2 linked regions of the Homo sapiens genome follow. The protein of the gene in region 2 interacts with the protein of the main gene of each other region in a biochemical or structural test. Each region holds a gene or a part of one and is shown on either strand. Other genes may lie near its edges.

What was found. The genes of interacting proteins can lie anywhere in the genome.
Region 1: the proteins of NUDT21 (region 2) and TCERG1 form a complex in vitro, tested with the Homo sapiens proteins (one study listed by BioGRID).

Annotation. Positions count from the first base shown.
Region 1 is NC_000005.10:146,477,194-146,485,598, forward strand, and holds part of TCERG1 (transcription elongation regulator 1), read left to right. Parts: intron 1-1,299; coding exon 1,300-1,460; intron 1,461-2,661; coding exon 2,662-2,718; intron 2,719-2,834; coding exon 2,835-2,901; exon of another isoform or gene 2,902-3,956; coding exon 3,957-4,007; exon of another isoform or gene 4,008-4,253; coding exon of another isoform or gene 4,254-4,377; exon of another isoform or gene 4,378-5,398; coding exon 5,399-5,534; exon of another isoform or gene 5,535-6,346; coding exon 6,347-6,436; intron 6,437-7,944; exon of another isoform or gene 7,945-8,057; intron 8,058-8,405. UniProt on the Homo sapiens protein: Transcription factor that binds RNA polymerase II and inhibits the elongation of transcripts from target promoters. Regulates transcription elongation in a TATA box-dependent manner.
Region 2 is NC_000016.10:56,441,333-56,448,332, forward strand, and holds part of NUDT21 (cleavage and polyadenylation specificity factor subunit 5), read right to left. Parts: intron 6,658-7,000; coding exon 6,457-6,657; intron 5,358-6,456; coding exon 5,294-5,357; intron 1-5,293. UniProt on the Homo sapiens protein: Component of the cleavage factor Im (CFIm) complex that functions as an activator of the pre-mRNA 3'-end cleavage and polyadenylation processing required for the maturation of pre-mRNA into functional mRNAs.

The DNA of each region.
Region 1 (8,405 bases), on a different chromosome or scaffold from region 2:
TATATTTCATTACTGAACTCTTTTCATTTATTTTAAGTGTGTTTTTCTTTATCTCAGGGAGGTATAGTTATTGTTGCTTCAAAGTTTTTTACTATCTTAACATAGGAGGCTTAGTCTGATCATTTCAACTTGTAAGTTACCTTGGACTTGACAACTGTTGATTAATTTGATGATCAGGTCATATAGACTTAGTTTCTGTTGGGGTTTTAGCTGCCATGCTACTGCAACCATGCCACTCTGCAACCAGAGATCACCCTCAGGGCAGAGCTACGAGGTGGGTGAAATGGGAGATTTACTCCCTTGCAGTTGTTTCTCTAAATTTTGGCTGTCCTCCGTATTGCTTTCTGTTTATTCATTAAGACTATACTATACAGAGTCTGAATGTAGTTGTGGTTTTTTTTTTCCTTTGAGTTTTCTAACTGTAATTAACAGGACCAATGGCTTGTAGTGCTTGTAGTGGGCTGCAGTGTATGATGCCCTAGTGCAATTGGTACTTTACTTTTTTTTTTTTTTTTTTTTTTTGAGACTGGGTCTCACTTTATTGCTCAGGCTGGAGTGCAGTGGTGCGATCACAACTTACTGCAGCCTTGACCTCCCGGGCTCAGGTGATCCTCCCACCTCAGCCCTGAGTAGCTGGGTCTACAAGCTCGTGCAATCACATCCAGCTAATTTTTTTAATTAATATTTTTTGTAGAGATGGCCTTTCACCATGTTGCCCAGGCTGGTCTCAAACTCCTGAGCTCAAGTGATCCTCCTGCTTTGGCCTCCCAAAGTGTTAGAATTACAGGCCTGAGCCACCGTGCTGGGCCTTCCCTTTACTTTTTATTTTAGATATAATTAGATCTTAAAGTCTTCATAGAAGGTTGCATTTCAGTATGTAGTTTTGGTTTGTTAAGAAATATTAAGAACTATAGTAGCTAGGATGCTATGTCTGTTCTTTAGCTTTAGAACTGCTTAATAGCATTATTGTTGCCATTAAACTCATTCTTTCTGATAGTTTAAAATTTAGTACTCTCAAATTGAGTGTGCCAAACCAAATTCCTAAGCATTTTAATCTCTGATCACAAATTGCTTTGCATTTCTTGGTTTTCTCAGTTAATATGTTGATCTGTTATTTTTGCTTGAGTCATTCAGTTATCTTGTAAAAACCATGTTTGGTTCTCTGTAAATAACTATTGGTAATAAGAACATGTCGTTCTTCAGTACCCTCATCTCCCTACTTGTAACAGGCTGAAAGAAGTCCTAGCTGTAAAATATGTTCTGTAACATAAGAGAATGATATTTTGCATCAATTCTTAGGTGTGTCGTTTGGACTGGTGATGAGCGGGTCTTCTTTTATAATCCCACCACTCGTCTTTCTATGTGGGACCGACCTGATGATCTGATTGGCAGGGCAGATGTTGACAAAATTATTCAGGAGCCCCCTCATAAAAAAGGAATGGAGGAATTGAAGAAACTAAGTAAGTTTTAAATTAGGAATTTATCCACTGATTTTAACATTCTTTTCATATTTTGATAGAAAATGTGGAAGGCATTTAGAAACCCTTTATTTTTCAAAGAATATAAGAAGCATTCGAAAAAAATAGACTGCTATCCTAGTTTGAATGAAATAATAGAGATTAAAAATATGGAGAGAATTTGGATAAGATTGTGCTTTGTAAAATATGTGTGTCTTTAATTTATTGTCCTACTCAAGATTTTCAGTTAGTCCAAGATATGGTTGGTAGTGTTGCTGCTTGCTTAGTGCTTATCAATACTACTAAAATGCTCCTCGGTGGGCCTTTTAGCACCTTTTGTGACTAGTAATATATTTCTTGAAATAATACATTACAAATTTTTTAAAAATACAAAATCTCAATCTTTTGAATTAGATGGTAAGCTCCTTATATTCCTGAGACTAGACACCTAAACCTTACTAAGAGATTATCTTTTAATCTATCTCATATTCAGAGGGCATACTAATATATTGAGTACAGATATTTGTACGTAATTTTTGTTGTGTATTTCTTATTGGTAATTTGCCCTTGTGTTGATATGATTGTGTTTTTATAGAACTGTGGCCCGCAAGTGGTATAGAAGCAAGATAAATGAATTATTTAATGCTTCTAATGAAATAAATCCTAGTGTGTATCATTTATAGTCATTGAGACATTTTCATGCATTATATATATGCTGAATTATAAGTAATTTCTGAGTCAGTGCCGCTTTGCCTATCTAGTGCTGAAGGTACTAGGCTCACCTTCAGCAATACTTGTTTTATAGGTATGATAATAATACTTTATAACTATGGTATTGAATGATGTTGAAACAATATGTGATTTTCTTTTGTTTTTCGTGAATTTGTTTTTAAATATTTGATTCATTCATTTGATAAATACATTAACGTGCATTGTTAAAAGGTACTGTAAATCCTGAATCAAGAAAGCTTTATTTTATATATTTGTAAATTTAAGGTTTGGGCAAGAAACATTTCAAAATGAATTAAATTTAATGTAAAGGGAGGATAAATAGAGGAAGTGTAGAATTATGCTTTGTTTAATGTTTTATAAAGGGATGAATATTAAGAGGTGAATATATTATGTAAACAGTAATTTTTAAAAAGAAAAGTTTGTGAAATATATGCAAATGACTTTGTAACAATATTTGAAATGTTTTTGCCAGGGCACCCAACTCCGACAATGCTGTCGATCCAAAAGTGGCAATTCTCTATGAGTGCAAGTGAGTGAACTAACCATAAATTGCAGCTTCTTTTTAATACTATTAAAGCAAGTGTTCTGGTAGTGATTAGCAGAAGGATTCATTCCTAAATATTTTAATTAAATTTTGTCTTATAGTTAAAGAGGAACAAGAATTAATGGAAGAAATTAATGAAGATGAGCCTGTTAAAGCAAAAAAACGGAAGTAAGTAATACATACGATTTGATTGAGGTAGATTATATCTTTTAAAAGTCGATTTGGTAATAATTTGTGATTGGAAGGGACAGGTAATGTGAATGTTGTTAGGAGGCATGATTGCTCTCTTAGGCCTGATAATAAATAGCTTTGTTTTTCATTGTAGAAAATGTGTCCCTTCTTTTGCTAGATTTGTAGAAGATTTGGGTATTCATATATGTATTATGACTCCAAATGATAGTTTTGGAATTAATTCTTTTTGGAAATTTATTAGGTCTCAATTTTATGAAAAGTTAGTTTCCTCCCTCATTTAGACCCCAATGGATACCATTCCAGAGATCTCATAAAAACAGACACAGACTTCTCCCTCTTTATATGGTTATCTTACGACTTACCTAGTCCTTGAGTCTGGTCATTAACTCCTTGGTGAGGAGAGAACCCATAAGCTTAGGAAGTGCTCTGCGAGAAAGAGACTGCTAAGAAGTAGAGGCATTAGCTTGGCCAGTGCTCTAGAGTTGGGTAAAATGTAAATGTTATGGCGGGGGGAAGGATGGGGTAGAGGGTATGCATGTATGGGGAATGGGACCATTATTTAGCAGCAAAAAGGAAAGTTTGAAGACATTAACAGGAACTGGTTAATTGTAGTCCTTATCTGAAAAGGACAGATTGAATGCAGCCAAATTATGGCAAAGAAATCAGTAGGACAACCCCTATAAAGGGTAGTTCTTTTAAAAAAAATTTCTTTATTGGCAACAACATAAAAGATATGAAAGAATCACTCATAATTTATCAGCGTAACATAGCTATTCTCATTTTTGCAATTGACTTTTTAGTTCTTGACCAAATGTAATTTTTATTAGTTGTGATTAACTGATTTTGTGCTTTTTTTTTAAAAAAAAAAAACCTAGAATAAGACATTTGTTTTGTTAATTATTATAAATGACTGTATTCATTCTGTTTATGTACCATAATTTTGGATGTTCCTACGATGTTAAACTTTTAGGTTGTTTTTAATTGTTTGTTCTTATAGACAACTCTGTAAGGTTTTTAACTGCTTTTATCAGGAGAATGTCAAAGAAGTCCTTTATGTGGATTGCCCGAGCTTCTCTATTTAGGTACAAAGCTAAAAGCCTGTTTTTCCTGGCTTAGTTTTTCTTTTATTTCCTTTATTGAGATAGATAGTGATAGTTTGTATTGTGACATTTTCATTTAGTATAGTTCTATAAAGGTTATTTGTTTTTATTAGTTACTTCTTGGATGTCTTTTAACTCTAACTATTTAAATAGTTTTAAAATTATTATTATAAGAGGGTATATTGTTTGGCAAATTGCTTTTACCTGTTTGTTTTGTGCATATCTTAGGTCACAGACTATCTCGCTAAGTTCCTGCAGGTCACGGACTATGTCTTCTATTTCTTTTGATTCATTGCCTAAGTTGCTAAGTACCTCTCACTTGCATTTGTGGGTTAGCCTTAGTTCCATTTAAATCTCTGGGGCTACCTACAGTTTCCTGTATAGCATGCTTTTGAATTTCCACATGTTCTGTTTTCCTAATTCCCTTAAGTTTGTATAGGGAATAAGAGCCAATTTTTAAAATATACTTAGCAGATCATATTTAAGAAGGAAGATCTGCTAAAATACACCCAGATATTATTGAATTACATACTTTTTTGGATTATTTACGTGAATGGGCCTTTTTCATAGTGCATATATTTGAGAGGTGCCGTGATTCCATGTTTACAATTTCACTTGAGTACCACACAGAAACAGGGTTGCCCTTACACCTGAGGTGCATTTTTGGAGGAACAAGAAGTAGTTTAGTCATTGATGAACAGTTCTAATTCCACCTAACTACTCCTGGGCCCATGTTGCTCTCTGGGACCTGTCCTTCAACTTAAATCTCAACTTATCACCCAGAAAGTGAGTAATAAAAAGTCAGGTAGGTAAGGTATATATCTTACATATTCACTTGGCCAAGATTGCAGATATTTTAGTTTTATTTTTAAAATGAATGTTTGAGATTACTAAAACATTATACCACTTAATACCAATTTTTATTAGATTTTACAAAATATTTTATGTGTTTATAATGTAAAACATTTTGGAAAATACTGTTTTTTCTATATTTCAAGAACTAAAAAAATTATATTTTGTGCTGTTTGATTCTGACACATAGAGGTTTACTGCAGTGTTAAACTTTTTTTTTTTTAAGTAAGGTTGCTCCCTTTTTATGTTATTAACCAGTGTCAGGGAGAGACAGCCCATTAAAGGTGTATTTTTTTCCTAATAATGTAGCCATTGTAAATCATTAGAAGCCCATTTTAATTTTGTTATTATGAAAGTTATTTATCCCTTAGAGTTCATTTGAAACCCTCAATATAATTTGTTTTTGCCAAAAATATGCTGCTCAGTAGTGAGTCTTGAAAATTCCTTTGATTTTAAGATTTCTAATAAGATCTGAGAATTAATATTTTGTCAGTTGATGTCTTATATTTTATTTTTTATAGGAGAGACGATAATAAAGACATTGACTCAGAGAAAGAAGCTGCCATGGAAGCTGAAATTAAAGCTGCCCGAGAAAGGGCCATTGTCCCTCTGGAGGCTCGAATGAAGCAGTTCAAGGACATGCTGCTAGAGAGAGGGGTCAGAAAACAATCTTTGGGGGAGATATTTCTGTTTTGTATAAGTAATATAAATATGTCTTGCTAAAAGGTCAAATCTAAGGTTAGTGCTCATGTTATGGGGGGGGATAAGGGGATTTTTAAAATTACTGTACATTTTTTGCAACAGCCTTTTTCTTGGCTAATCTTATCATATTTAACTAAATGCCATTTTACTGTCCTTTTAAGTACAAATAACACTTAACATTTATTGGGTCATTAAATTGTGGTGAGTAATATAAGACGAGTATTAACATTACAGAATGGCGGACTGCTTGGGATAGGTAAGGTATATATGATTATTCTTCCTTTAATATCTTGAGAATGGCTTTTGTTAAAGGAGAACTGATACTTTGTGATATTATTATTTGCAATTTAATTGAGAAGGGATTTCAACTATTTGGTTATATTCACAGATTCATTTGAATAAGTAAAATTGTTCAATTTTAAATCACAACATTGTTCACAAGATTGGAGCAAGCATGAGAAATCAAAATATAAATCTTCAAGGCTTTTTCTGATGTACTGATTTTTAAAATGTCACACAGTAGTAGTTATTTTAATGAGTAATTAAGTGTCTGTTATTTCTATATAATATAGGAATGTTCAGAGCCAATTAGTGTGGAAATTTGCTATTGCTAGCCTCCCACTGCTTGTCATTTATTAGTGATGGAAACTTCAGTATGGTTTTATGTCTCCTTTATAAACAGATATCCTGTAGATTTCAAGCAAAATTATGACCTTTATATTTTTAGAGGAGACTTAATTATGAGGCAATACGTTTTTATTTTAAAGGTGTCTGCTTTTTCAACGTGGGAGAAGGAGTTGCACAAGATAGTTTTTGATCCCCGGTACTTACTTCTCAATCCTAAAGAGAGAAAACAGGTAAAAGGAAAATGGCATTAACTAAGAATGTATATCTCTTGCCAACATAGTTTTTAAATTATAAGGAATAAAGTACCATCCCTTTTTTTTCTGATACAGCATTTCAAAAATATAGTCTTGCATCTTAGAACATATTATGTGTCTGTGTGTGGACATTTCTACTTCAAAATTCTTGGATATTTTTGCCCTTATGAGCATGGCTGTTGTCTTGTAAACATTTTGTCCTTATGCCTCATATACCTAGGTTATGTGTAGTATGGTTTTAAAATTGATTTCAAATGCATTTACTAATTTGCTTGTTTGGGCCAATGATGCAAATTTAGAGTAGAAAAATAGCAAAATACAGATGAGTAAAAAGGATAAAAAAGCTACTGTAATCCCAACTAATAGATATGACTACCGTTGAACACTGGTTTATTATTGAATACTGAACAGCCTTCTTGACCATTATGTGTCAGTATGTACATATATATGTGTGTGTGTGTCCTGTAGATAGTACTTGAACATAGGTTTATGTCTTATACACAACTGCATATACAAAGTTCACATCTAAGTAGCATCTGTTAAAATATCTGTTTCCATCATAAACTCAGAAAAACAGTGGATACTTAAGGGTCCCTGTTGAATTAGTGTTGCTTTTTATTCCCATGATGATTCAGTGACACATATCATTTCGTGATTGCCTCTTCTAAAGCATTGCACACTTCCAACTTACTTAATTTCTGAATTACCTGAACTATCCTGACACTGATCTCCATAAAATGGTGAGTATGTGGAACCACTTGCTATAGTGCTGTTAAGCTGTAAGATTTCATTTGGTAACAGTAGTGCCCATCTTTGATATTTTTAATGTAACAATTGAAATAATTCTTCACATGGTGTGTACCATTATGCATGTAGGTCTAATCATGGACTTGAATGAAGGGAGAAAATTTACAATGTGCCAGATATGTATTTTAGTACTTGGAATAGAAAGACATAACTTCCTTAATGTATTTGCATCTTCATTTTAAGCTTTGTATCTTTTTTAAAAAACAAACTCTGTGTGAGTTTTTTATTCTCATTTCAGTTTATGGCTCTATCAAAATTTATAAATTAGCCTTGATTCCTTACTTTTCCCACTTCCCCTTTACAGTCTTATCAGCAAATCTATAATCTACCTTCAAAAAATTTTCAAAATCTCACCTTTTATTAATCATTTCCCCCATTAACACCCTAATCCAAGCCACCATAAACAACCCTTATCATCTGTGTAGCCTATTGTTGATCTCCTTCATTCCATCTGTTCTTGTTCCTCTTTAGTCAAGTTCTTTTTCCACACAGCAGCCAGGCTAATTTTAAAGTTTAAGTGATACTAAATTAAGTCACTGTTCCCTTGCTTAAAACTGTTTAGTGCTTTCCATTTCATTGAGAATAAAATTGAAGCTCTTTTCATGGTCTCTAATATTCTACATAGACTTACCCCTGTATACCTCTTGATGGTCTTTTTTAATGTCTGTTGATTACAGCCACACTGGCCCTGATATTACTTGAACAAGCCAGTCATTCTGGTGTTTGCTATTCCTTCTGCCTGGACTGTTTTTCCTCCAGGTGTTAGTACAGCCAGCTTCATTTCATTAAGGTACTTGTCCCAGTGCCTTCTAATCAATCTAAGTATTGTCTCTTTGCCTTTTCTAATTTCTTTATGGTGCTCATGGCTCTAATTGTATAAAATTATGTTTTTATTATTTGTCTCCTCCTCCTGCAAAATATAAATTGTATGAGGCTAGAAACTTTGTCTTCATTGCTTTATTTGTAGTGCCTGGAACATTGCCTAATCTAAATATCTCTGAAGGCTTTAAAACTTTTATGACGTATTCCTCCTGGTACTGAGTGTTATAGTGAAATTAGAAGTAACATATTGAGAACTATAGTTCTTTCCCAATTTTTGAAGCATTCTATAAGCTGATGGTGGTATCTCCTTAATAGA
Region 2 (7,000 bases):
TCCAAGCGACTCCCCTGCCTCAGCCTCCCGAGTAGCTGGGACCACAGGTGCCCGCCACCACACCCAGCTTTTTTGTATTTTTAGTAGAGACAGGGTTTCACCATGTTGGCCAGGATGGTCTCGATCTTTTGACCTTGTGATCCACCTGCCTCGGCCTCCCAAAGTGCTGGGATTACTGGCGTGAGCCACTGCGCCTGGCCTCTTGATTTTCATTTTAAAAACATTTTTTAAAAGCCTATAACCCTCTACTATGAATGAGAATTTAGATATTAAAATCACACATCCTAGTTACACTTTTTCTTCCACCATCTTCCCATTATCAATATTTGGTTAAGTCAATATTCAGTATTTAAGTTAGTATGATCCGGTAGATCAGTCACAACAGAGCAATGATTAGCAAACCGTATCTCCTTACTTGTTCAACTGTCCTATTCTTTAGTTAATAACTTTCATTTCCTTTGCTATCACTAAATTCATTTCCCACATTCTCCATGATAACTTAAATTTCTTCCCAATTCAAATATCAATTGTCAGTTATTCTATTAATTTCATCTTTTCTAAGACATGTTTTTCCTTTTTTCAAGACAAGATCTGTCACCCAGGCTGGAGCGCAATGGCGCGATCTCCACTCACTGCAACCTCCACCTCATGGGTTCAAGCGCTTCTCTCACCTCAGCCTCCCCTGCCCCCAGCCTCCCGAGTAGCTGGGACTACAGATGCAAGCCACAGCACCAGGCTAATTTTTCACCATGTTGCCAAGGGTGGTCTCAAACTCCTAGGCTCACGTGATCTGCCCATCTCAGCCTCCCAAAGTGCTGAAATTGCAGGCATGAGCCACCACACCCAGCCTAAGACACGTTTTTCTATCATCCTGCTGTAATCTGTACTTGATAGTCTCAACCCTGCTTCACAGCTGGAGTCCTTATTTTATTCCATTTTGGGGGTGAACACCCTCTAGTAGCTTCCTGAGAAAAGGTACAAGAGATGTAACTTTTTGAAACTCTGCATGTCTAGAAGTAACTTTTACCCACACACTTGATTTATAGTTTGATTAGAAAATTCTAGGACAGAGATTATATTCTCTCAAAATTACAAAGACAACACTCCACCATCCCTTAGCTTCCAGAATTATTTCTGGGTAGTTTAATGCAATTTCTGATTTTGATGTTTTGCATTTAACCTCTCTGCTTACCAATCCTCCACCTCCCACTTTGGAAGCTTTTACATCTTTTTGTTTTTATTTTCGTTTGTAGGATCTAAAACGTCATGATGATATGCCTTTGCGTGGATCTTTAAACATTCACTATAGAGGCAAGGCCAGTAGGTCTTCTCAATCTCAAAACTCATGCCCTTTGAGGTTTGAGAAATTTTCTCTAATTATGCTTTGCTAATTCTTCCTTTTACTCTGTTCTATTTATCTATAGTTTATATTGGTCCTTCTAGAATGACCCACTAATTTTATCTATTCTTACCTACATTCTATCTTTTTATCTTTTCATTCTATTTTCTGGTAGAATGAACCTCTTAACTCTTTACTGAATTTTTCATTTCTTCCAACATTTTTTTAATATCCATGAGGTTTTTCTTGGCTAAAATGTCTTTTTAATAGCACTGTTTCACAGGTGCAAAATCTCCTCTCATCTCACCAAGAATATTAATCATAGTTTTGTCAATGGTTGAATTTTCTGCTTCTGTTGAGGTCCTTTTGCTTCTTTTGATCTTTTTCTTGTTAAGAAGTTTTCTCCAAAAGCCTGGTGATAGTTGGTTGTGTACTCACAAGGGAGAAGCAACAAGATGCTTAATTGTCACCTCTGTGTGCATGAGTGATAGGACTACAATATTTTTTTTTCTTTTTTTTTTTTGAGACGAAGTCTTGCTCTGTTGCCCAGGCTGGCGTGCAGTGGCATGATCTTGGCTCACTGCAACCTCCACCTCCTGGGTTCAACTGATTCTCCTGCCTCAGCCTCCCGAGTAGCTGGGATTACAGGCACCCGCCACCACGCCCAGCTAATTTGTTTATGTTTGTAGAGACGGGGTTTCACCATGCTGGTCAGGCTGGTCTCAAACTCCAGACCTCATGATCCACCCGCCTTGGCCTCCCCAAGTGCTGGGATTACAGGTGTGAGCCACCGCGCCTGGCCCAGGACTACATTATTTCTATAGAAAATTCTTGCTTTGGTTTGGATATGGTTTGTCTCCCTGCCCCCAAACTCATGTTGAAATTTGATCCCCAATGTGACAGTGTTGGCAGGCAGGGCCTAGTGGAAGGTGTTTGAGTCATGCAGGTGGATCCTTCATGAATAGTTTAATACCCTTCCTCCATCAGGAATGGATTAGTTCCCTGGAGAGAGGGTTGTTAAAGAGTGTGGCTTCCTGGATTCACTCTTGCTTCCTCCCTTGCCATGTCTCTTTGCACATGCCCACTCCCATTTTGCTTTCTGCCATGAGTGGAAGCACCATGAAGCCCTCACCAGCTGCCCAATCTTGCCACCAGAACTGGTGAGCCAAATAAATCTTTTTCTTTATAAATTACCCAGCCTCAGGTATTCTGTTATAGCAACATTAAACAGACGAAGACAGCTCCCAAATGGCAGTATCTGAAGTTTTTCTTGGACTGGTCACTTTTTCCAGAAACAAGAATTCCAACCCTCAGCCTGGGATATATAAATCTAATTGTTGGCTGGGCCTGGTGGCTCATGCATGTAATCCCAATGCTTTGGGAGGACTGCTTCAGGCCAGGAGTTTGAGACCAGCCTGGGCAACATAGCACGATCTCATCTCTATAAAAAACTTTTCTTTAATTAGCCAGGCATCATGGGCACATACCTGCAGTCCTAGCTACTCAGGAAGCTGAGGCAGGAAGATTGCTTGAGCCCAGGAGTTTGTGGTTACAGTGAGCTATGATCACACCACCATCCTCCAGCCTGAGGAACAGAGTGAGACCCTGTCTCTAAAAAAAATAAGTAAGCCTAGACTGACAGTGGCTCACACCTGTAATCCCAACACTTTGGGAGGCCAAAGCAGGCAGATCACCTGAGGTCAGGAGTTCGAGACCAACCTGGCCGACACGGTGAAACCCCATCTCTACTAAAAATATAAAAATTAGCTGGGCATGGTAGTGGGCACCTGTAATCCCAGCTACTCTGGAGGCTGAGGCAGGAGAATCGCTTGAACCCAGGAGGCAGAGGTTGCAGTGAGCAACCATTGCTCACATTGGAGATCACGCCACTGCACTCCAGCCTGGGCGACAAGAGTGAAACTCCGCCTCAAAAAAAAAAAAACAAAAACAAAAAAAAAAAAAAACAAGCCTAATTGTTAACATTCTGTCAGCCTAATAGAGGTCCAAGAGTCTGACTATTCAGAATAGGAACTCTTATTCTCCCCATCCCCTAAACTTTTTTCATTGCTAGTTGTTCTCTGATTCAATTACTACAGAGAATCATCAGCCAGTCTTTGCCTAATTACAGAGTGGGGAAGACAATCTAGATACACAGGTTGAACATCCCAATCTGAAACTCCAAAATCTCAAACTTTTTGAGCACTGACATGATGCTCACAGGACATGCTCAGGCCGGGCGTGGTGGCTCATGCCTGTAATCCCAGCACTTTGGAAGGCCAAGACAGGCAGATCACCTGAGGTTAGGAGTTCTAGACCAGCCTGGTCAACATGGTGAAACCCTGTCTCTACTAAAAATACAAAAATTAGCTGGGCGTGGAGGCAGGCACCTTTAATCCCATCTACTCGGGAGGCTGAGGCCGGAGAATCGCTTAAACCCGGGAGGCGGAGGTGACAGTGAGACAAGATTGCACCATTGCACTCCAGCCTGGGTGACAAGAGAGAGACTTCGTCTCAAGAAAAAAAAAAAGGAAATGCTCATTGGAGCATTTCAAGTTTTGTATATGGGATGCTTAACTGGTAAGTATAATGCAAATATTCCAAAACCTGAAAAAAATCCCAAATCCTAACCACTTTTTTAATTTTTAATTTTTTTGAGTACACAAGATGTTTTGATACAGGCATGCAATGCGTAATATTCACATCATGGAGAATGGGATATCCACCCCCTCAAGCATTTATCCTTTGTGCTACAAACAATCCAATTATACTCTTTTAGTTATTTTTAAATTTACAATTAAGTGATTATTGACTATAGTCACCCTGTTGTGCTATCAAATAGCAGCTAAACACTTCTGGTCCCAAGCTCTCAGATAAGGAATACACAACCTGTATAAATATACTCCATATATACTTTGAACCAGTCCAGTTTTCAGCCCATGCATGCCCCCACTTTCATAAGTACCTAGCACCTTCAGTTCCTCAGTCATTCTGGTACTCTGCAATGCTAGATTCTGCCTGCCTGTCTGCTGGACTAAGGTTTCTGCTAAGTTAGTTATAATTTGCCCATCTGTTTTCCAGTTTCCAAAAATTTTGCTTTTGTGATTCTCTCATTTTGCACTCCCTCAACCTTAATGGACTTATATCTTTGTACCATACATTATATAAATGGAAGTCCAAGCACAGGAAAATGTTTAAGAGTTATAATACATTTTTAGAAATACTAGAAAGACAAACCAATAGGTCAAAAGTGGGAGAATTACGGGTGACTTTAGTTTTGTTTCTCCTTTGCTTTTCTGTGTTTGCCAAGCTTTTTGCACAGAGAATATATGAGCTTTGTAACAGGGGCAGGCGGCAATTGAATGTTAAAGAAGAAAACTAACATTGAAAACAATTTACAATCTCAAAATCCTCAGTATCTATGCATTTGGCCCCAAGTCTTTACATGCAGGCATTACAATGATTTTTAAAAAGTAGAATAATTTGGGCAAAGTCTAAAAAATATGTGAAAAAAGTGAAAACACAGGCATCTTTCTCTTTTCAAAATTCTATAGAGGCCTACTCTTGAACAAAACTACCTGCATTCAAACCTCTGGCTCTACAACACACTAGCTATATAACAAGAAGTAATTTAAACTTAATAATATCTACTTCCTACAGTTGTGGTGGTGATTAAAGGAATTAGCGCATGTAAAGCACTCAGAACAGTGTCTAGCACAGTAATACTTAAATGTCAGTTTTAATTTACCATTGCTGTGACACAGTTTAACATTTTAAAAATTGAAATAAGTGTAACTTCAACTTGTAAAAAAAAATCAACATTGTACTAACCTTCTGGAGTTTAAGTTGTATTTATTGAAAACTAAATATTCCAAAATAAGCATCCTTTTTACAAGACATTAAAAGCCAAATAACTAGTAAGTTGATGGTATTCAAAGTGGTTAAACAGAAAAATACCTCTGTCATTAAGCGTTTTAGTCCTTCAACTTCATCTTCTCCTGGGTTAAGTTCACCACCAGGTCTGTATAAAAGTTAAGAATTTCAGCTTTCAACTTAATACAATTTGGAGATAACAAATAACACAATAATTGTTATTTCTACCAAGTCACTAAGAACATATTTCAGCATAATAAGGCAATCAAAACAAGTATCAAAGTGAAGGGGGAGAATATGCTTGAATTCATGTCAATTCCCCAGACTAACAGTATACAAACCCTAGGTTTTTTTCCTCTTCGTATATATTTATTTTTATTTTATTGTAGATTCAACGGGTACATGTACAAGTTTGTTACATAGGTATATTGTGTAATGCTAAGGTTTAGGCTTCTAGTGAACCCATCACTGAAACAGTGAACATAACATCCAATAGGAAGTATTTCAACCCTCGCCTCCCCCTCACCCTCCCCACCTTTGGAGTATACAGTGTTTATTTTTTCCAACTTTATGTCCATATGTACCCATCACATAAACCCTAGTTTTAAACAAACAGAATATATAACATAGCACAAACATAAACAAAATTGCTAACCACCAGTCCATCCCAATCTCCTCTCTGGGAGCTATCTGATGATAATGGAGTCTAGAAATGCTCAGAGAGGAATGGATCACATTCTTTAGGCCTAAAGAATGGGAAACTTTTTCAAGAACGTCATCTAAGTATTGGAGACTTTTCTTTTTGGTATAATCTAGTCAAATAGTTACGGATCAAATGTTTGAGAGATGTAGGAGCTTAAATGATAAAACACTAAACTGTTATCCACAAAAACCTAAGTCATCTTAAGAACAGGAAATGCTAATCATACCAAGAAAGAAATATCAATTGTTCTTGGTAATGCTACAATGACATCTAGACATTGATCTTGGACTCAACTATTCCATGGGGTTTCTACCAAGCTCAATCATTAACATCAACAACATACAGAAACATACAGATTACTAGTTAGGAAAATAAATGAGCACTGCAATGGAGAAAAATTACTCATGATTTTCTCTTTCTAAAGACATCATTAACAGCAGTGTTTGTTGAAATGAATGACCGAGGGCTAAAATTGTATTCCAGAGCTGCATAAACAGCAATCCTACTAAAAACTGTCTTGCTGTTAATTTCCAACACTACTTACAGTTTGAAGAAAGTTGTTCCCAGCTGCAGCAGTAACACATGGGGTAGCCGGTGCTCATGTACAATCAGAACCCCTTCTACAGTCCTCCTCATTCCAATTTTATCAAATTCTTCCCTCATGCGCTGAAATCTGGCTGCAACAGAGCTGTCCTTCTCGTAGAGGGGCTCTTTTGTACCAAAAGTATAATTGGTAAGAGGGTACCTGTGATCCGAAGACAAACATCTAACATGAGAACTGAAGAATGTAATTTACCATGACAGACATTAGCATAAAGAAACCATGGTACAAAAAAAGTGCATATATTGTACTCAGACACAGGATTTGTACAGTTAACTAAAGTTAATGAAACAGCAGAGACTGGAATCTTGCTCTCTGGACTCTTAAAGCCAGAGCTTCCATTAGATCAAGCTGCTCCTCCATACTTTAACTTTCAAGTGTAGATAACACTATCCTTAAATGCTTAGAGAAATGGTTATCTGAACATTAGTAATCCTCTGGTTTTATACCATGGCTGCTATTTCAACATTACCAATTTGGCTAATAA